3 linked regions of the Homo sapiens genome follow. The protein of the gene in region 2 interacts with the protein of the main gene of each other region in a pairwise test. Each region holds a gene or a part of one and is shown on either strand. Other genes may lie near its edges.

Region 1 (7,000 bases), on a different chromosome or scaffold from region 2:
TCCATTACAGCTCTAAGAGTTTCAGCTTGATCTAGAACTAATAAAGTTGGAAGAGAGAGCTTATATTGTTTTACCAATGGGTTCACAAAGTAAAGGGAAGAGGGGAGAGTGTCCCAGCCAGAGAAGAGCATGTGCAAGAGTCCTGTGGCAGAAGGGAGCACAGAGCCCAAGGACAGAGGGAGGTCGGGGGGCTGTGGTGCAGAGTAACGGGTGAGGATGGGCGAGGAGGAGCCTGGGAGGCAGGCTGGGCCAGACTGTGCAGGGTCTCCAGCCATGTTAAGGAAGTCGCTCTTTCAGGATAAATGATGGAAAACGAGCACTAACAGGCCTGAGGGAAAGGCTTTATAATCTAATTCAAGCTGCATACATGGGAAAGAAAACAGCCTTAGCAACAGCTAGGAGGACCCTGCCTTAAATGCTGTCAAAAAGCAGACTCACCAGGGCAGGTCTGGGCAGGCTCCCTTCTGTAAAGGGGCAATCTTTGGTTCTCTAAGGGGCTATTCCATTCCCTCTCAGGGCTACAGTCCCTTCTCCATCCACACAGTCACAACAGCACAGCACAGAGTCCCCAGCAACAGGCCCACCCTGCACAGAATCAATCAGCCCCACTCCTGTGATAGTCGCGCTCTCCCTCTCGGGGCCGGCGGCAGCGATGGGATCTCCCTGCCTGGCTTTCCTTTGTGTTTCTCCCTTCTCCTTTCCCGAAGTCTTCATGAACACCTTGTACTTGGACAGGTGGAACTCTCTTTTAACCTCAGCCTCGGGCCACCCAAACTTTCCATTACCTCCTCATTTTGTCATGAAAAGAACAATCATGGAAATTACATTCCCAGCTGGAAGAAGGAACTGAGGTCCCATCTGTAGCTATTTGGCAAGTGGATCATAGGCCCAGAAGGAAGTAAGTCTATCCAAACTCTCCCCCTCTCTCTTCCTCCAAGATCCTGCCCTGGCCTATGTGGCTCTGGCCCATGATTTAGGACTTCAGGTGTGTGGTTTTTTTACACTTGGTCCGGTTGGTTGCGGACAGGGAGAAAAGAAACTGAATAATGATTGCTGTTTAACCAGGAAAGCTGTGACAAACTCAGCTACAGCTCAGCATGTTTTACCTCCTCCCTTTCACTCCCGCAAACAGCAATGAGCAGATACATTTTTACTGCAAAGAATGACTGTTAAGTAGTTAGGAATTAGAAGATGTGTTTGCCAGAGAGAAGCCTTCATTGTAGAGAATTTACTATAACCAAGTCAGAGTCACTTAGGAAAAGAGCTTTGTCACACAGACGCTAGGAGAGTCTCCACTGACACTGGAATAGGATGTCACCTGTGATGAGTTATCTGACTTAACCCCAGAGCAGCTGTCTGAGTGGCCTGAAGATCCGGACGTTCTGGGGTCATGCCAGGAGACTATCCTACCCCTCTCATGTGTCTGTGCTGTGAGACCCCAAATAAGCGCCATGCATACAGAGTTACTAAATTAAGGATTATTAACAAGGGAGATAAAAAATAAAATATATATGGTTAAAGAGCCAAGGGAGTGTCTGTATGTATAAAAAGTGAATCCAATTTGAAGACACCAGACCTAGGCAAATCCAGAAAACAATCTAATGCCTCAGGAGAATATCATGGATCAAGCTGACATGGAAAGGCTCTCCATGTCATGGAACAGGAATGAAAACATCTTATCTGCTTCTTCTAACTCTAAACATATACAACTGCTGGATAAAATGTAATTTAAAATTTTTTAATATATAGCCTAGGCTGGAAGCTTAGAAAGTAAATCCCAGAAACGAAGAGGAAACCATTCAATAAATGAATGGACCTTTCAGAAGTATTTGGTTTTGGCAAAAAAAAAAAAAAAAAAAAAAAAAAAGAAAACACCAAAAAACAAATGAATGGACTTAAAAGAATAGGTGGGGGCTGGGTGCAGTGGCTCACGCCTGTAATCTCAGCACTTTAGGAGGCTGAGGCAGGCAGATCACCTGAGGTCAGGAGTTCAAGACCAGCCTGGCCAACGTGGTGAAACGCCATCTCTACTAAAAATACAAAAATTAGCTGGGCATGGTGGTGGGCACCTGTAATCCCAGCTACTCAGGAGGCTGAGTCAGGATAATCACTTGAACCCAGGAGGTGGAGGTTGCAGTGAGCTGAGATCCCGCCACTGCACTCCAGCCTGAGTAACAGAGCAAGACTCGGTCTCAAAAAAAAAAGGTAGGAAATGGGCAGGCACTCATGCCAAGGACCCCCGCAATGGGTCAGGCCTTGACTGAGGCCCTACAGGCTTGGAGCAGGGTCTACCAGGAATAGATGCTGAGCCTCAGTCCTGCAGAGGGCTGAACACTGGAATAGGGCTGTCTGCATAAAGCCGAACAGCACAATGAGCTGCTGTGCTACTAAAACCAGAAACAGAAAAACTCCAGCTACTGGTCTAGGAAAGCAGCACGGAAGCTGACCATCTACCATGAATGAGATGAATTACCCATAAAAACTGTAACTCCAGGCCTGAGCAATTGGAATACACTGCTTTTATGGTGAAGACATCTCCATTTGAAAAATTAACAGAAAAACTAGTCCCACGGTGAACCTGGAGATTCTCGACAACGGCAAACATAAAACTGCTCTGCAGGGATGCCCCCACAACCTCCAAGGAAGAGCTAATGAAAAGCTTATAAATTGCATGAAAAACAATTCATGAAGGCATGTCAGCAGGTCCAATACACTGACTGGCTGTGGATCCACCTGAAGGATCCACAATTCAAGAAACAGAAACAGAATAATTTAAAATACTTTAGGCTGGGCGTGGTGGCCCACCCCTGTAATCTCAGCACTTTGGGAAGCTGAGGTGGGTGGATCACCTGAGGTCAGGAGCTCAAGACCAGCCTGGCCAACATGGTGAAACCCCATCTCTACTAAAAAATACAAAAATTAGCTGGGTGTGGTGGCACGTGCCTGTAATACCAGCTACTCAGGAGGCTGAGGCAGGAGAATCACTTGAACCCAGGAGACACAGGATGCCGTGCTGCCTGGACGTGGGGAGACAAAGCTCGGCCTGCTCACCAAGCCACAGTGTGCCCCCACGCTGCGTGTGCCTCCCCAGCTCAGAGAAGAGAGCTTCACATAACTCAGGCCCGAGGTTTCCTTCCACATTCTCATTCTTCACTGGACTTCCTGCCTTACAAGTAGCTTTTCAGTGTGCCTTGTACTCACTGTCAGGAGTTTTACTGTCTGCAACAGGCTCTGCCTTAGAGGACTTAGAGAGTGAGCTCTGAATAAGTAATGATGTGTCATAACTTTGAATATTTAAATGCTGAGCGCCTAGAGCCAGCCCTTGATTCTCTGCCAGCTTCCAATCTAGTGTCTCGGTCAGTGGAAGGGCCTTGGAAGAATGAAAGTGGGGACACACCCTATCTGTCTGGAGACAGGGCCCAATTAGGACAGAGGTGAAAAGAAGCAAATAAAATCACTATTTCAGATGAATTGAAAAAAGGCTTAAGGCTTGCAGTTAAGATGCTGTTGCTCCTGGTAAGCAGCAAAATTTCAACAAAAACATTTGACACCCAGACTTAGCTGAAAAGGGCCTTGGAGACAGAATCAAAGTAGTAATAGTCCCTGTGGCCACCTGTCGCCAGGAGGAAGCTAAACCCAGCAAATGATGATGCCTAGTGCCTCTTCGTGGTTAAAGAATTTAGAGTTCATTTGTATTTAAAACTTTTTCTTGTCTGTTTTTCCACCAGTGTCAGTTCCCAATACCTGAAAAGATCTAAGTCAGCTTCTGGGAGAGTATACAGAAGGATCTGGAGGGATTCAGAAGAGCCTATGCCACCAGCACACTAACTTGCTCCTATCACCCAGCCCAACTTGGAGCTAGGAGCTCTGAAGGCTACCAAAGAGGACTTGTGGAGAGGGGAGGGCTCAGGGATTTAAGAACAGCTCTCTCCCCTTGGTGGCAGCTGGAAGACCAAGAATTGAGAATGGCATCACAAGATGGAAGGAGCTGGATCCCTGAGTTACTGCATGGAGAGCTGCCAAGGAAAGCAGCTCAGCCCTCATCAGATGTTGCACAAGCAAAAAAAAAAAAAACCAACAAAAAAAAAACGTTCATTGTGTTGAGCCACTGAGATTTGGAGACTCTACGTTACTGCAGCATAACCTACCATGATCCTCAGGTAAGCCCCTAGGACATGGGGGTAGGGTGGTTTAGGGACAGGTATTATTACTCAGCCTAAGGTAAAGTGTCTGTGTTGTAGTGTGATTTGAATGGGGAAGAAGACATTATATTAAACGCAAACGCAGGCCGGATGCAGTGGCTCATGCCTGTAATCCCAGCACTTTGGGAGGCTGAGGTGGATGGGTCGCTTGACGTCAGGAGTTCAAGACCAGCCTGGCCAACATGGTGAAACCCCATCTCTACTAAAAATACAAAAATCAGCCAGGTGTGGTGGCAGGCACCTATAATCTCAGCTACTCAGGAGACTGGGGCAGGAGAATCGGCTTGAACCCGGGAGGCGGAGGTTGCAGGGAGCCGAGATTGCACCACTGCACTCCAGCCTGGGCAACAGAGCAAGACTCCGTCTCAAAAAAAAATGCAAATGCAGACTCTAAAAGTAGTTTGTCTGTATTCATATTCCAGCTCTACCCCTTGCTGTTTGTATAATATTGGGTAAGTTATTCTCTCTAGGCCTCAGTTTCTGCATCTCTAAAATCTGGCTTACACTTACCTTAGAGACCTCAACAGATTGTTATGAGATTTAAATGAGATAATCCACAGAAAATATTTAGTATGGGGCTTGACACTTAGTAAAAACTTAAGTCTTAGTTATTTCCTATCTCATGACTAGTTTTGGACCTTACAACACAAACCCTCACTAAAGTTAAATGTGGAGATGAGGAAAGCAAGAGTTGGAAGTTACCACTCACTGCAGTCACTTGCATAATCTTGACATTTAAAGAAACTCCTGAAAGACTAAAAAGAAAAGAAACCAACCTAGTAGAGGTTGTGTTGCATGGGCTGAAGAATGCAATCCCCTCATACAACCACCCACCCCAGCATGCATACAAACGTCCCATGGCAGAGACCTGCTCACTAATCCTATTTCTTCTGATTCCTGGGCCTACAGCTACACTAGTTCCCAGCCTCCTGGCTCAGTCCTGTTCCGTCTAATAGCATGTGGGAGCGGGCATGGCAAAGGCCTATCCTCCTATGCATGACCCTCTAGGCAGCATGACCTTAGGAGCCATGTGTGGAAGATGGTAAAGCCTGGAAGATGGAAAGCACCTGAGTCCCTGAGTCACTGCTTGCAGGAGAAGTTCCATGGATGAAGAGACCCAGTTGGACTTGAGGAGCAGGAAATAAACTTCCAGCAAGTTTGAGCCATTATACACTTTGTTATTATAGAATCTGGCAGCAGTTAGAGACACCTGTTTTCTAATAATATGTCAAATCTTTTCTAGTTCAGGTGTTTATGTTGAAAAAAAAATTCTTACATTTAAAATAGGATTTTAATCTAATTATGTGAAAATAAGTTATAGTTATTTATAGAAAAACAACAGGGACAAATTTTGAATTCATTTCTCCCAAAGCACCTCAGTTACTACAAGCAAGGGGAAAGTTTAAGTTGCCCTGCCTGCTGCCTCCCTGATAATCTGGATCCATCACTCCCTGAGGACATTTTCTGAATTCTATTAATGTGAGCAAATGGTGCTGTGCATGGCAGGCAGGAAAATCAAGGGGTTGTGATCATTTTATCTTTACAACCTTGTGACAGTTCACTCACTTCTTCACACGTCAGGAAAGGAGAGAATGTATGCTTATCATTAATCAAATTAAACGCCTAAGCCTGGCCACCCCTCCTAACCATGCCTTCCTTAATTCTTTCTTTGAGCTAAATTTTCCTGCTTCTCCATTCTCCCACCCTTAAGTACCCAACAGAAGGGCAACTGGTCACTTACCCAATGCACGGATTGGTCTGGTACCTCGGTGCCGTGTAGGAGAAAGGAGAGATGTCCTTATCAACAAAAGACCCAAATCCCAACCGGAAGTTGCTGGTGAGCTTCCTCATCTCCTCCGCGAGTTTGGTGCCCAGGCTCCGGATATTGTCCAAGTCATCCTTCATGGACAGGGAGAGGTCCATCAGGTAGTACAGGTCCACAGGATAGTCCTCCACCTGGCGAACCTGTAGCTGGAAGGTGGTCTTGTCACCTGCACCAACAGAGAGGCCACGTGTGTTAGAGGTTGTGCAACCTGCTGAGGGCTGAGGGATGGGATTTGCTTTCAAAGCTAGTTTGCCTCTTACTTTTCTTTAGTGATTGTGTGCCTCACAGAAGATTTTTCTTGGAAGTAAAGTGCCTGAAGGGAATACGGTGCTGAGAATGGAGGCCTGGGTTCTCCTTCCTAAACATTCGGCTTAGCACTTCTTTTTTTATTTTATTTTATTTTTTTTGAGACAGTGTTGCTCTGTCGCCCAGGCTGGAGTGCAGTGGTGCGATCTTGGCTCACTGCAACCTCTGCCTACCAGGTTCAAGCGATTCTCATGCCTCAGCCTCCTGAGTAGCTGGGATTACAGGTGCCCACCACCATGCCTGGCTAATTTTTGCATTTTTAGTAGAGACGGGGTTTCACTATGTTGACCAGGCTGGTATCCAACTCCTGGCCTCAAGTGATCCACCTACCTCAGCCTCCCAAAGTGCTGGGATTACAGGTGTGAGCCACCACGCCTGGCCTGGGCTTAGCATTTCTAAGGAAACTCCTTAACAACCAGGCTCCTTGGTAGTGTTCTGTCTTCTCAGCAACAAAGACCCTTGAGTAATCAGTGGACAGTGAACCAGACAATTTCATGAACACAAACTGGGTGGAGAGTAGCCCACCAACCACATACCAACTCCAGAGAAAGACCCAGTCACGATGGGAATGTGCGTTTGAAACAAAAAGCAGGGAAGAAATGAACAAAAGAGGGGTGTGGGCCTGAGTGGGGAAGAACCAAGTTGGGGAGAGAGATGTGCAAGGCAA
Region 2 (7,099 bases):
TCTAAGGTTTTAGGATCTTCCTTAGAAGTTGCTTTAACTAGTGCACATATTTATCGCCCATCACGCAAGGTGAAGACAAGACCACAGACCTTGACACTTGTGCTTGAGCGATGGGCACCGTATTCCAAGGGTGGGGTGGGGCAGGCTGCCTGGTGGGAACAGTATTTCTTCACCCTGTGTTCCCGCACATCTGGGGGCGATGGGGAGCAGCTGGCTGTTGATCTGATTACTGTGGTTAACGTCTCCCCAGACAGCACCTCCTAGCACGTACTTAGGAGGGGATATGTTCCTAGGACCTGCACACCCCTTCGCTCCCAAACCCTTTTCCTATGTCCCTCCAAGCCTGGCCGTCCTGCTGGGTTCCTGTCGCTGAGGAATAGATAAGAGGGGAACTAGGATACAGGCTGGTGATCCCTCCAGAGCAGTTCACGTGGGTTGGAGGTGGGGGACTGCCTAGTTCTAGCTCAGCCCCTCAGAGGGAAGGACCCAGCCGGCCATGCCTCCGTCTCGCCACGGGCCTTGAGAGAGGGGCTGTTAAAGCTTCCCGGCTGGGGAACAGCCTGGGGGACCCTGAGCTCCACTTGCCCTGTGAGGGTGGGGCTTCGGTTGTAAAGTCCACAGTGACACAGTTCTGCGGGTAACACCATTTAGCACTTAGTCCGCCCCCTCCTGGCCCCCTCGAGCTGCTCTTGCACCCCTGGGAGGCCAGTCCCAGATTGTACTGGTAAGCGCATTTCAGCTGCTGCTGATCTCTCTGTGGGTACAGGGCCCCTCCCTCCCTCCCTCTCTCCCTTCCTTCCTTCCTTCTTCTCTCTCCTTTCCTTCCCTTACTTTGCCCATCTTCACTTCTTCCTCCCCCCTTCTTATCATTTCTCCTGTTTTCTTCCCTTTTGGTGCGTTTCTCTGCTGGGGCAGCCTCAGAGGATTATAGACGCCTCTGTTTCTCCTCCTAACACCCGTGTGTGGGAGGAGCCCACTTCTGGGCGGGCATCTTGCATTGGAAAAGTGCAGTCAGCACGGTGGAAAATGTTGCTCATGGGCACACAGCTGCTCTCTTGGCGGGTGGTGGTATGTGGGGGGCTGGGCCACCACCCACCCTGTCCTTGGGGCCTTTACTATTTTATTATCTAGCGAATGTGTCTTATCTAATCTATCTAGCTTACCCATCCATCCATCCATCCAGTCCCAGGACAGCTGTATGGCTGGGCGGGGCTGCGCTTGCCAGGAAGCCCCAGGGCACATGGCCACAGGGAGGCTCATCCCAGCCTTGGGCCCACACAAGGGGATTGATCCTGTCCCTCCCCTTGGCTAGGAGTCTCCTCACATGTCTCTTCCCGGCAAGTCAGATGGTTTTCCTGCTAGAGGGTTCTTTGTACCTCTGGGGGTTCAGCTGATGCTCCCCAGGTTGTTTTAGCACCTGGGTGGCTCAAGTTTCGGGTTGGCTCCTGGGGAAGGTGAGGAAGCCAGGCACACAGCCTGGAGAGAAGGGTTGGGCCTCACTTGCAAGTTCCAGATGGGCTGCTTCTGAAGCCAGTTGAGGATTTTGCCCTGTGTGGGCCCTGGTATTCCCCTCTTCTGCACTTGGGGCTCCTGGGTATGTAGGGGGTGACTAGCAATTGAGGCCCAGGGCTTGCCACCCACACACCTGTGTGCTCACGTGACCTTTTCCACAGCCAGGAGAAGACAGCTCTAGGGTTGCCGTGGCCTGGGCCCACCTCGCCCCTGCCTTTGGTTCCTTCTGCACCCACCTTGCCCTTTGTGCCCTTCAGGTCTTGATCCACAAGCTGGACATTGGTGCCTCCCCATGTCCAGTGCATAGGAGCAGCGCAGCCACGATTCTCCCTTGCGTTCCTTCAGGTCACAGATAGGAACCTGCTGCTTCCAGGGACTGAGGACAGGAGAGAAAGGCCTCTGTGCTTTGCTCCAGGTGGCCGTGTGCTGCTGCCAGCCACTTGGTGCACTTGGTGCGGGGCCAGCTGCCCCAGGGCCTTACCTCCTGATTTCGGGGCTGGCCCTGGCTCTCCAGTGCTTACACTTAGGGCTCTAGCCACAGCCATTTAGGAATGTCATTGAGAGAGCCAAAGCCTGCGCGGGGATGTGTAGGGGGAGGGAACAGCTGTTTCTGGGCCTCTGGCAGCAGCAGCAACGCTGAACTTGTGGCTCGGAGGCTGGTGCGCTGTGGCTCATGCCTGTTGCCACTGCCATGCTCCCCGTTATTTGTTGCGTCACTTCCCCCCGCTCAGCAGATACCCCCACTTGTGAAAAGTTTCCAGACATCACGTGGTGGGAGGCCTTGGCGCCCTTCAAGGCCGACCTGTGCTGGTGTGAGGGGCGTGGCTTCCTCCGGACTCATCACAGCCCGACAGCCATGCATGGCCACAGCAGCTTCAGAGCTGCGGCAGTGATTCACCCCCCAAGATGCTGATGTCACAGGGGAGTGCCTGAGCCGGGGCAGAGCTGCCGAAACTGGGGGCGGAGAGCCCCAAAGTGTCCCTCTCACCTGCCCAGAAGCCGGGGAGCCAGCCCCGTGCAGACTCAGGCCTCAGAGAAGAGGAGGAGTAGGCAGAGAACTCACTACCCCTTAGCAGATCCTGGGCCAGGGCGTGACAGCCGTGCCCAGTTGAATCTGTCTAATGTGGCCCCAGACAGTGGGTGTTGATTTTTCTCTTCAAACATTCTGAAATGGGTTCTTTCTAGAAAAGAGGGCCCGCTTATTTTCCCTAGACAATTGCTGATGTTGACGCCCACTCTGGGTGGTGTTGGGGCGGGAGGGAGAGCTGTTTTAGATAGTTACTTAGTCACGGCTTGTGCGGTTCAAGACTGCTCGGCACTGGGCCATGGAATTTTCCTGAGCATTTTCACTTGTGGGATTTCCAGGCATTAAGTGAGGCCCTTGACAGAGAAGTTGTGGCCAGGTCAGCAGCTCTTGGGGTCAGGATCAAAGTTGTTTCTCCTGGGATGGCCACCAGGACACAGGTTTCTGGAGTCAGAAGACTCCGCAACTCTAGGTAGTTCCCATGAATCAGAAAGAGAGGGAGAGCTAGGCTTTGTCGGGGGATGGGGTACGTGCAGAGCCTGAGAGGGGCCGAGTTCTGCAACACTGGCTGATGAAACACCGTCTTGTCTTCACCTGTCCATGAGAGAATGAGAAAATAGGAAAGTTTTCTTAAAGACCAACATGTCCAATTGAAACATCTGTCCTTTATTCTGAGATTGTCATGCATTCTTTTTGTAACAAATGTTAAAGTGACCATGTCGTTTCATTTTTGAAATGATGACACATTTCAGTGTTCTGTATTTGTTCCCTTTTTTGGCTTTTTCATGTTATTATCAGGCTGAATACGGAGGCGGCTGCCTCGTGTTGGTGCCCCAGTGCTTTTTGGTTTGGGCCACTTTTCCTGGACAGTAAACCCAGGAATACAGGAGCCACCAGTTGGTTGAGTTTGGCTTGCAGGGGGTATCTGGACTGAACTGCCCTTTTGTGGCAGAAATGCCCTCACTTGTTTTAATTCTGTCTTCTCCATGGTGCTCGCCTGGGACTTTAGGAGTGACTGTTGAGCGTGTCTGACGTCCTTTCTCCGTGCTAACCCCAACGCCCTTTGGCTTTCTTCAGCCATGGACTTTCCCCAGCACAGCCAGCATGTCTTGGAACAGCTGAACCAGCAGCGGCAGCTGGGGCTTCTCTGTGACTGCACCTTTGTGGTGGACGGTGTTCACTTTAAGGCTCATAAAGCAGTGCTGGCGGCCTGCAGCGAGTACTTCAAGATGCTCTTCGTGGACCAGAAGGACGTGGTGCACCTGGACATCAGTAACGCGGCAGGTACCCCGTCAGGGCTGGGGCTGAGCTTGCTGATAGCCAGAAGCTATGGCCGGCCCTGTGCCATGCTAGGCCCTCCAGGGGCAGCACCTGCAGGCTGTGGGATGCAACAGGCCTCCCGCACAGGCTTCAGGCCATGAGCAATTCAGTACTAAGTTCCTCCCACCTTTTGGGGGCCTGTTTTGATTGGTAGTGGAGTGGTAAGGGGAGAACGGGCAGGAAGGGCTCATGATGAGCTCTAGGCCGCAGTGAACACAGGAAAGGCCTCATTGGGAGGGGCAGAGAGTAGGCAGGCTCTATGCCCTCTGGCCCCTTTCCGTGGCAGAGTCAGTCCTGAAGCATCTACCCCAGTGCTAACTAGAAGCGTGGGGAGAGGTGATGGGGAAGGCCTAGGGGCTGGGAGCAGTGTCAGGAAGACCTTGGGGTTGTGGAAGGAACTGGTCCTGGATTCAGACTCCCAACCCAGACTGACGTGACATGCCATGAGAAGGTATTATTCTCCCATTTTATAGATGTGGAAACTGAGACCCAAAGAGGTCAGTGACTGGCCTGGAGGTCAGTCAGATAGAGAGTTGGTAGCAGAGCCCTGATGAAAGTCAGGTTGGAGTGTCCTCCACTGGTGAAGTGTAGCGGCCAAATAAGAGGGTGTGGAGGGCAGGTGTTCACAACATCCGTCCTCAATGCAGGGTGGGCATTCACACCTCTGTCCTCATCCAGGGCAGGCATTCACACTCTGTCCTCCCTGCAGGATGGGCATTTATACCCCCGTCCTCTGTGCAGGGTGCATATTCACACCTCCTTTTCTCCATGCATGGGCGGCATTCACAGCCCATCCTCCTCCATGCAGGGCGGACAGTTGCACCTTCTGTTCCCTGTGCAGTGTGGGCATTCACACCTCCTGTCCTCTGTGCAGGGTGGGCGTTCACACCTTTTGTTCTCTGTGCAGGGCAGGCATTCAGACCCTCAGCGAGCACTTCTTTTCAAGGGCTGTTGGTAGTGCTGAGATCCCCCAGGTTACCTGCCTCCTCTCCACAGAGGAGATGGGGCGATGCAGGCTTGCCACTCAGCTGTTCCTAAATCCCTGCGTCCTGCTGCTGAGTGGAGTGGTGGGGCAGGCTGCCGGTGCCGGATCTTGAGGTGGGTCTGTGACAGCTGTCCTGTCCTTGGTAGGCCTGGGGCAGGTGCTGGAGTTTATGTACACGGCCAAGCTGAGCCTGAGCCCTGAGAACGTGGATGATGTGCTGGCCGTGGCCACTTTCCTCCAAATGCAGGACATCATCACGGCCTGCCATGCCCTCAAGTCACTTGCTGAGCCGGCTACCAGCCCTGGGGGAAATGCGGAGGCCTTGGCCACAGAAGGTAGGTTATTGGCAGCTGCTCCCAAGCAGATGGCCAGAGACCTTGGCTTTTGATGTGGGCTCTGCCTCTGACTTTCTGGGTCTCAGTTTCCTCATCTGGCCCTGCCTCGGTTGTGGGTGCTGGCAAGGGTTAGCCTCAGGTCTGAGGGTGGCCTCTCTGCCTGCCTTTCCCCTACAGAGCACCCGGGAGCCGTGCCTGGTTCAGTGCCTTTGCACACGGGCAGGCTCCTAAACCCTCCTGCGGGTCTGTTCTCCTGAGCCCCTCCTTCCACTTCCCTTAGCTGCTAAGATAAAAGCCCTCAGATGCCCACTATGGGCCAGGTGCCTTGCTGTAGACTTCCAGAGGCTGCGTTCCTCCCTTTCCTAGTGCTGACCTCTGATCAGCTCCCTTAGTGCACACATGGGGTCTGCATGTCCCACACAAGCAGGAACCATCACTGTTGTATTCCCAGTGCCCAGCCATCAGCCTGGCATGGAGTGGGTGCCCTGTGAATAATTTGGTGAATGAACAAATCAGCAAACCACTACTTAGAGGTACCCTAGGGAGGACGAGGAAGACCTAGCAAGTTCTGGGCCACCTCACACCTCCAGATGGCGGGCACTTGATGGGAAACGGCAGGTCTGCCCTGTTCCATCTCCAGGAGGGGACAAGAGAGCCAAAGAGGAGAAGGTGGCCACCAGCACGCTGAGCAGGCTGGAGCAGGCAGGACGCAGCACACCCATAGGCCCCAGCAGGGACCTCAAGGAGGAGCGCGGCGGTCAGGCCCAGAGTGCGGCCAGCGGTGAGTCAGATGCCAAGGACCCAGCCGGCTGTCCTGTCACCTCCCAGCAGCCTGGGCACAGGGTAGTGAGGGCTGCCTTGGGGCAGGTAGCACGGGCACCTGCACCTCTTGAGCCTGTGTTACCCAGAATGACCTATTGTGTGTTCCAGGGGGTCTGTTTCAACCAGAGCAGACACAACAGCCTTGGCTAGGGGTGTGCTGGGGCCTCCCCTCCTGGGTCACACGCAGCCACCACCAGCGCGCTGGTCCAGGAGAGGTATCCGACCCCTGGGCAGAGGGTAGCAATCCAGCCTCCGGTGCTTCCCCCACCCAGGTGCAGAGCAGACAGAGAAAGCCGATGCGCCCCGGGAGCCGCCGCCTGTGGAGCTCAAGCCAGACCCCACGAGTGGCATGGCTGCTGCAGAAGCTGAGGCCGCTTTGTCCGAGAGCTCGGAGCAAGGTAGCCCCGCCCAGCCAGGACCAGGCCCTACCTGGTGCATCCTCCCAGGGCCCTGCCTCCACTGCGCACTGGGGCCTCCCTCTCCTCCTGCCTCCAGCTAGTCCCACCTGGAGTCACCATGCACTTCAGCTTTGGGACACCTTGGTCTTCGCATGTTCTTGAGTCTCGAGGTCGTTCCTTGGTTGACCATGCTAGCCGTGTGTCTGTGAGCACAGGCACGTCCTTCAAAGCCCTGGAGCTTCTGCTGCTTCCCGGCTTTCAGCACCGTGCAGGGGTGCCTTGCCACCCACGGCAACCCTCCAGTGCCTGCTGGCCGACAGCGCCCACCCCAGCTGGCTAAGCCCCCTACCTGCATCCCGCAAGCAGCAAATACCCAGTTCACAGGCCCCCCCGGGGGCTTTCCTTGGCCAGTGCTGGGGCCATTTACTGTCCCTTCCACATGTTGCCGGCGCCCCTCACGTGCGCTCAGGCAGAGAGGGCTGCCGCCTCCATGCTTGCCCTTTTCTCCGCAGAAATGGAGGTGGAGCCCGCCCGGAAAGGGGAAGAGGAGCAAAAGGAGCAAGAGGAGCAAGAGGAGGAGGGCGCAGGGCCAGCTGAGGTCAAGGAGGAGGGTTCCCAGCTGGAGAACGGAGAGGCCCCCGAGGAGAACGAGAATGAGGAGTCAGCGGGCACAGACTCGGGGCAGGAGCTCGGCTCCGAGGCC
Region 3 (7,194 bases), on a different chromosome or scaffold from region 2:
AGATGTATTTCATTTGGTGAATGGATTAAAAAACACGTAGATTAAAAAAACAGAATAGAGCCCCAACATAGACCTGCACACATACAATCAAGTGATTTATAACAAAAGCAATAAAGGTGAAAGTATAGTTGTTCCAACAATTGGTACATGAACAACTGGGTATCTAAACAAAAATAATAATAATAACCTAGACAAATCCTTAGGTATTTCACGAAATTAACTCAAAATACATCATAGACCTAATGCAAAATGCAAAAACTATACAACTTCTATAAGAAAACATGAGAAAATTTACATAACTTTGTTTGTTAAAGAGCTTTTAAATTAAACACCAAAAGCAAAAGTAGCAATGAGCACACCTAGCACCCAGAAGTAGATTTCTAGAACCATTTCCCATTAAAAGGAACCAGATATTTGGAGAAATGGCTTATTTATGACTGGGGCAGGGCATAAACCTGACGAGCCTGGGCCATTTTGCAGCCCTAGAAATTAAGGGCTAGAGAATATGATAAAGGACATTACAGTGTTGCAAATCCAGACTATGGAAAACTGGAAAGAACATAAGATATGTTTCTTTCCAACAACGAAGCGATGGCAAGAAAACAGATCATGTGGAGGGGACCTACAGGTGAGAGAAGATTTAATTACAAAAAATCACTATGTAATACTATTTTTGGGTACTCATCCAAATAAACAAATTTTTATAAAGTATAAGTCTTCTAGATAAGTGCATAAAACAGTTGAACATTTCATAATCATTTATTTATTTTTTAGAAATGAGAATTGTATTGGGTTTTTATTTGTAGTGATTGTGACCCAGAGGTGACTACAATCACGGGTGCTGCAGCCACCCAGGGAACACCTCGCCTGGTACCTGCAGCCATTCTCTGCGAGGGGTACAGCTGGGTACAATGTCCTTGTCTTTTAAAAATGAATATTGAATTATTTAGAGATGAAATGGTATGCTGTCTTTGATTTGATCCACATTATTCCAGCAGCTGAGATGCAGGTAGGTGAGTGTCTAACTGGAACCAGATTTGCCGTGTATTTAAGGTTGTTGATGCTGAGCGTCAGGTATGCTGGGTTCATTATGTTAGTCTCTCTATTATTCTATATGTGTGAGGCTTCCCTGATAAAAAAACGTTTTTTGTCATAAATATCATGCCATTAAAAATGAAATCCTAAATGATCCAACTATTTTGTAGAAATAAAATAAACAAATGACCAAATTGATCCAAAAAGAAAACTTCAATTAAACGACACAAACTGAAACTATACAATATTCAAAGCTCAAGCCATCCTCAAACGTCCCAGGTTAGTCGGTTTCGGAGGCTGATTCCACCAAATGATCAAGGAAAACTAACCATCATCTTATCTCAACTCTTCAAAGCACGCAAAATATAGACAATTCTTCAATTCATTCTCCCAGATTAACCCTTCTGGATTCAAAAATCAGATGAGGACCACCCCCCACTCCCGATGGAAAAAACACATAAACAAGCTCTCTTACATAGCAGCAAATATCTTATGTAAATTAGTAGAATATTAAATGAACAAACAAGCTCTACCCAAGGAAAGAAAATATGATTTAACATTAGAAAAAAAAGTTTCATTGTAATTTTTTACACACAAAATAGAGGAGAAAAAATTTATCACATCAATGGGTACAGGAAAAGCTTTTGGAAGAAATTCAATATGAGTTCATGGTAAAAATATTTAGTTAACCTATATTGAAAGAGAACATACATTTCCTAAAATCAACAGCAAACAAATTTAAGAAGTTCAAAGAATTATCATTAAAGGCAGGAACACGAAGTAGATGTAGGCTATTATCTCTACGTTTTAAATCATCATTGAGACACAAAGTCAGAGCTATAAGTATCATAATAAATAAGGGGCATGAATATAGGAAAAATACATAATGTTTAGTGATAATACCCTTATCATTCTTGAAAATTCAAAGAAAAAGGCATGTGGAATATTCAAGTCAATGGGTTTTCAGAATGAGGTGTACAACAGATTACTATAGCAAAATCAAATTCTCTGCCACACAATAGCAATAACTATTAGAGTTAATTAATTTCCATTAATTAGAACAATTAATAGAAAATATGCCATTTGCAATAGCAACAAAATCCAAGAATTACCAAAAAAGAAGCCTAAGAAAAATGTGTAAGGTCTTTCTAGAGGAAACTATCAAAGTATACTGACAGATTCAGGTAAAAGGAGTTTGAAATAAGTAAAGGAGCATAACCTATTCATTGATCAGGAGCAGAACATTGTAAAAATGTCAATTCTGCTTAAATGATTTACAATTTAGTGTCTTACCTGTAGCTGCCAAAAATTACAGTCACACTTAGGCTGCTGTTCTCTGGTTCCCAAATCAACTCTGGAAAATTATAGAAGAGAAAAAGAAAGAAAGAAAAAACAACAATATAAGCAATAAAATCTAAGCAACAAAACACAGAAAGTCCTGGGTGAGACTGAGGACTGTGTTGAACTGGTACTTATGTTTGGGGCGGTGTCAGTTGGAGGGGGGTTGGCTGCAGGGATGTTGAAGTCTATAGCCTGCCTAGACGTCAGATGACAGAATGAATAGGATGAACATTTTAAAATCTCCACCTCACTGCACTGCACAATCTGAGGCAGCACCTCAAAACACGATTCCAGTAACCCTAGGGTAATAGCAGGACAGCAGGAAAATTGGGTTGGTTAAGGCAGTATGGTTCCGGAGATCTGCTAATTACAACCTGAAACCAACTTAGTGGATGAGGATTAGCATTATTATTATTATTATTATTAATATTATTATTATTATTATTATTGAGACTGTCGCCCGGGCTGGAGTGCAATGACTCGATCTTGGCTCACTGCAACCTCCGCCTACCAGGTTCAAGCGATTCTCCTGCCTCAGCCTCCCAAGTAGCTGGGATTATAGGCGCCCACCACCACGCCCAGCTAATTTTTTAATTTTTTTTCTATATTTAGTGAAGACAGTGTTTCACCCTGTTGGCCAGGCTGGTCTCGAAAAGAATTATTTTAACAGAACATAAACAATGGAATAGAAGTTGAATAGGGTATCAGAGTGAATCATGCAAACTAAGGGTAGGTATTCTTTCATAGAAATAAATATATATGTTGCTACCTATATATATCCTTGGAAGATATGTAAAATATATTTCTTTGAGGAAAAAAGGTTTCCAAAGTCCAGCTCTGGCTGGGGAGGAGCCCCCGTGGGAAGGCGTGCATCTTCTCACAGAGGTCACTACAATAACGGGTGCTGCAGCCACCCAGGGAACACCTCGCCTGGTACCCGCAGCCATTTTCTGCAAGGGGTACAGCTGGGCAAATGCTCAGAGGTGAGAGAAAAAGAGCATCTCCAACCCATCACTTCAACAAAGAGCCAGGACCCAGGAAGAGGACCCTCCTGAGTGAAGACTGAGGGTAAACCCCCGCTCAAAGAGGGGCCACAGAATCCAGCTTAGTCCCTCCTGTCAGCCCTGGAAGACCCCAGCGGCTTTGTCGCCCAAGGACACCTCTCCCCCCACTGTGACCTCAGGGGACTAGGAGTCAGAACCTTGGTCTGAGGGGAGCAGACACCATCCGCAGAGAACAGGGGTCCAGGCTATGCCAGGAATCAAAGGACTGAGGGGCACGCCTACCTCAACCCCTAACCCCAGGACCTCTCGCCTCCTCCCCCACCCCAACTCCCACCCTGGCCGAATCCGGTTCCACCCCTGCTGTCAACCCAGGTGGCCCGGATGTGACATCCCTGACTTGCGCATTGGTCTGACCAGCAACTCGAGATCCACGGAGGGAAGCAGGCGCAGGCTCTGTGAGGAGGCAAGGTGGGGGCAGGCTGTGCCAGGCGTCAAAGTCAGGACCCTAAGAGAGAGCTGAGGGTTCCCCACCCCCATTCCTATCCCCCACCCCATTCCCATTCCCTTCCACACTCCTAACCCAATCCACACCCTCATCCCCTACCAGCACCCCATCCTCCCCAACCCCGTGCCACCCTCATACCCCCATCCCCAATTCAACCCCCGCACCCTCATCCCCCACCCCACACCTGCACCCCCACCCCCCAACACCCATACCCCCATCCAGGCAGGATCCCCGGTTCCGCCCCCGCTTTCAACCAAGGAAAGCCCCAGCTGCCCGGATGTGATGCCACTGACTTGCGCACTGGGGGTTAGAGACAAGCGAGCTTCTGCGTCTGACTCGCAGCTTGAGACTGGCGGAGGGAAGCCCGCCCAGGCTCTATAAGGAGACAAGGTGAGATGCTGAGGGAGGACTCAGGAGGACCCCCACCCCACATAGACGACCACAAAAAATCCAACACCACCCCTGCTGCCAGCCCTGGGCCACTCCTGGAGACTTCTCAGTCTGTGGTGGGGGGGCCACCACCCCACTGCCACTTAAGCCTCAGGGGATTCTGAAGTCAGAGCTTGGGGTGATCAGTGCAAGACTGGTGGGGGCAGGCTCTGCCAGGCATCAACCTCAGGACCCTAAAAGCCAGCTGAGCGTACCACACCGCTATTCCCATCCCGCAACCCCATTCCCATCCCCTAACCCCTTCCCATTCCCATTCGCACTCACAAACCCATCTACACTCCCATCCTCCACCAGCTCCCCATCCTCCCAAACACCCCACCACCTTCATACCGCCATCTCCCACCCCCAAAAACCCGCCCCCTCCACCGACCTCACCCCTCCCACCCCCATCCACGCTGAATCGGGTTGCGCTCCCTCTTTCAACCCAAGAAAGCCCCAGGGGCCCGGATGTGATGCCACTGACTTGCGCATTGGGGGTTAGAGAGAAGCGAGCTGCTCTGTCTGACCAGCAGCTTGGGATTGGCGGAGGGAAGCGGGCCAGGCCCTGTGAGGAGTCAAGGTGAGACGCTGAGGGAGGACTCAGGAGGCCCCCACCCCAGATAGATGACCCCAAATAATCCCGCACCACTCCTGCTACCAGCCGTGGGCCACCCGTGGGCGGACTTCTGAGTCTGGGGCGCCCACCACCCCACTGCCTCTGAAGTTGCAGGGGACTCTGGAGTCAGAGCTTGGGTTGATTAGTGTAAGACTAGTGAGGGCAGGCTCTGCCAGGCATGGACCTCAGCACCCTAAGAGAGGGCTAAGCGTACCCCACCCCTATTCCCATCCCCCACCACGTCCCCTTTCCGATTACCATTTGCACTCCCAAACCATCCACGCCCCCATCCCCCACCAGCACTCCTCTCCTCTTCAACCCCCCACCTCTCTCATACCGCCATCTCCCACCCCAACAACCCGGGCCCTTCTACCAACCTCACCCCTCCCACCCCCATCCACACTGAATCACGTTCCGCTTCCGCTTTCAACCCACCCCCAAAAACCCGCCCCCTCCATCGACCTCACCCCTCCCACCCCCATCCACGCTGAATCTGATTTCCGCTTCCTCTTTCAACCCAAGAAAGCCCCAGGGGCCCGGATGTGATGCCACTGACTTGCGCATTGGGGGTTAGAGAGAAGCGAGCTGCTCTGTCTGACCAGCAGCTTGGGATTGGCGGAGGGAAGCGGGCCAGGCCCTGTGAGGAGTCAAGGTGAGACGCTGAGGGAGGACTCAGGAGGCCCCCACCCCAGATAGACGACCCCAAATAATCCCGCACCACTCCTGCTACCAGCCGTGGGCCACCCGTGGGCGGACTTCTGAGTCTGGGGCGCCCTCCACCCCACTGCGTCTGAAGTCGCATGGGACTCTGGAGTCCGAGCTTGGGGTGGTTAGTGTAAGACTAGTGAGGGCAGGCTCTACGAGGCATCAACCTCAGGACCCTAAGAGAGGGCCAAGCGTACCCCACCCCTATTTCTATCCCCCACCGCCTCCCCTTTCCCATTACTATTTGCACTCCCAAACCCATCCGCGCCCCTATCCCCCACCAGCACTCCTATCCTCAACCCCGCACCTCTCTCACACCGCCATCTCCCACCCCAAAAACTGGGGCCCCTCCACCAACCTCACCCCTCCCACCCCCATGGATGCTGAATTGGGTTGCGCTTCCGCTTTCAACCCACCCCCAAAAACCCGCCCCCTCCACCGACCTCACCCCTCCCACCCCCTTCCACGCTGAATCGGGTTTCCGCTTCCGCTTTCAACCCAAGAAAGTCCCAGGTGCCCGGATGTGATGCCACTGACTTGCGCATTGGGGGTTAGAGAGAAGCGAGCTGCTCTGACCAGCCGCTTGGGATTGGCGGAGGGAAGCGGGCCAGGCCCTGTGAGGAGTCAAGGTGAGATGCTGAGGGAGGACTCAGGAGGCCCCCACCCCAGATAGACGACCCCAAATAATCCCGCACCACTCCTGCTACCAGCCGTGGGCCACCTGTGGGCGGACTTCTGAGTCTGGGGCGCCCACCACCCCACTGCCTCTGAAGTCGCAGAGGACTCTGGAGTCAGAGCTTAGGGTGTTTAGTGTAAGACTAGTGAGGCCAGGCTCTGCCAGGCATCAATCTCAGGACCGTAAGAGAGGGCTAAGCGTACCCCACCCCTATTCCCATCCCCCATCACGTCCCCTTTCCCATTACCATTTGCACTCCTAAACCCATCCGCGCCCCCATCCCCCACCAGCACTCCTCCTCGACCCCCCACCTCTGTCATACCGCCATCTGCCACCCCAAAAACCGGGGCCCCTCCACCAACCTCACCCCTCCCACCCCCATCCACGCTGAATCGGGTTCCGCTTCCGCTTTCAACCCACTCCCAAAAACCCGCCCCCTCCACCGACCTCCCCCCCACCCCCATCCACGCTGAATCGTGTTTCCGCTTCCGCTTTCAACCCAAGAAAGCCTCAGGGGCCCGGATGTGATGCCACTGACTTGCGCATTGGGGGTTAGAGAGAAGCGAGCTGCTGTCTGACCAGCAGCTTGGGATTGGTGGAAGGAAGCAGGCCAGGCCCTGTGAGGAGTCAAGGTGAGACGCTGAGGAGGACTCAGGAGGCCACCACCCCAGATAGACGACCCCAAATAATCCTGCACCACTCCTACCTGCCGTGGGCCACCTGTGGGCGGACTTCTGAGCTTGGGGCGCCCACCACCCCACTGCCTCTGAAGTCGCAGGGGACTCTGGAGTCAGAGCTTGGGGTGTTTAGTGTAAGACTAGTGAGGCCAGGCTCTGCCGGGCATCAATCTCAGGACCCTAAGAGAGGGCTAAGCGTACCCCAC

The links.
Region 1: the proteins of ZBTB17 (region 2) and ITGB5 interact in a two-hybrid assay, tested with the Homo sapiens proteins (one study listed by BioGRID).
Region 3: the proteins of ZBTB17 (region 2) and MAGEA4 interact in binary tests that used the Homo sapiens proteins (3 or more experiments, as listed by UniProt).

Annotation. Positions count from the first base shown.
Region 1 is NC_000003.12:124,842,366-124,849,365, forward strand, and holds part of ITGB5 (integrin beta-5 isoform a precursor), read right to left. Parts: intron 6,194-7,000; coding exon 5,944-6,193; intron 1-5,943.
Region 2 is NC_000001.11:15,945,012-15,952,110, reverse strand, and holds part of ZBTB17 (zinc finger and BTB domain-containing protein 17), read left to right. Parts: intron 1-1,748; exon of another isoform or gene 1,749-2,180; intron 2,181-3,613; 5' UTR 3,614-3,615; coding exon 3,616-3,820; intron 3,821-4,987; coding exon 4,988-5,176; intron 5,177-5,794; coding exon of another isoform or gene 5,795-5,816; coding exon 5,817-5,957; intron 5,958-6,270; coding exon 6,271-6,396; intron 6,397-6,908; coding exon 6,909-7,099. UniProt on the Homo sapiens protein: Transcription factor that can function as an activator or repressor depending on its binding partners, and by targeting negative regulators of cell cycle progression.
Region 3 is NC_000023.11:151,908,695-151,915,888, forward strand, and holds the start of MAGEA4 (melanoma-associated antigen 4), read left to right. Parts: upstream 1-4,194; 5' UTR 4,195-4,275; intron 4,276-6,815; exon of another isoform or gene 6,816-6,943; intron 6,944-7,194. UniProt on the Homo sapiens protein: Regulates cell proliferation through the inhibition of cell cycle arrest at the G1 phase. Also negatively regulates p53-mediated apoptosis.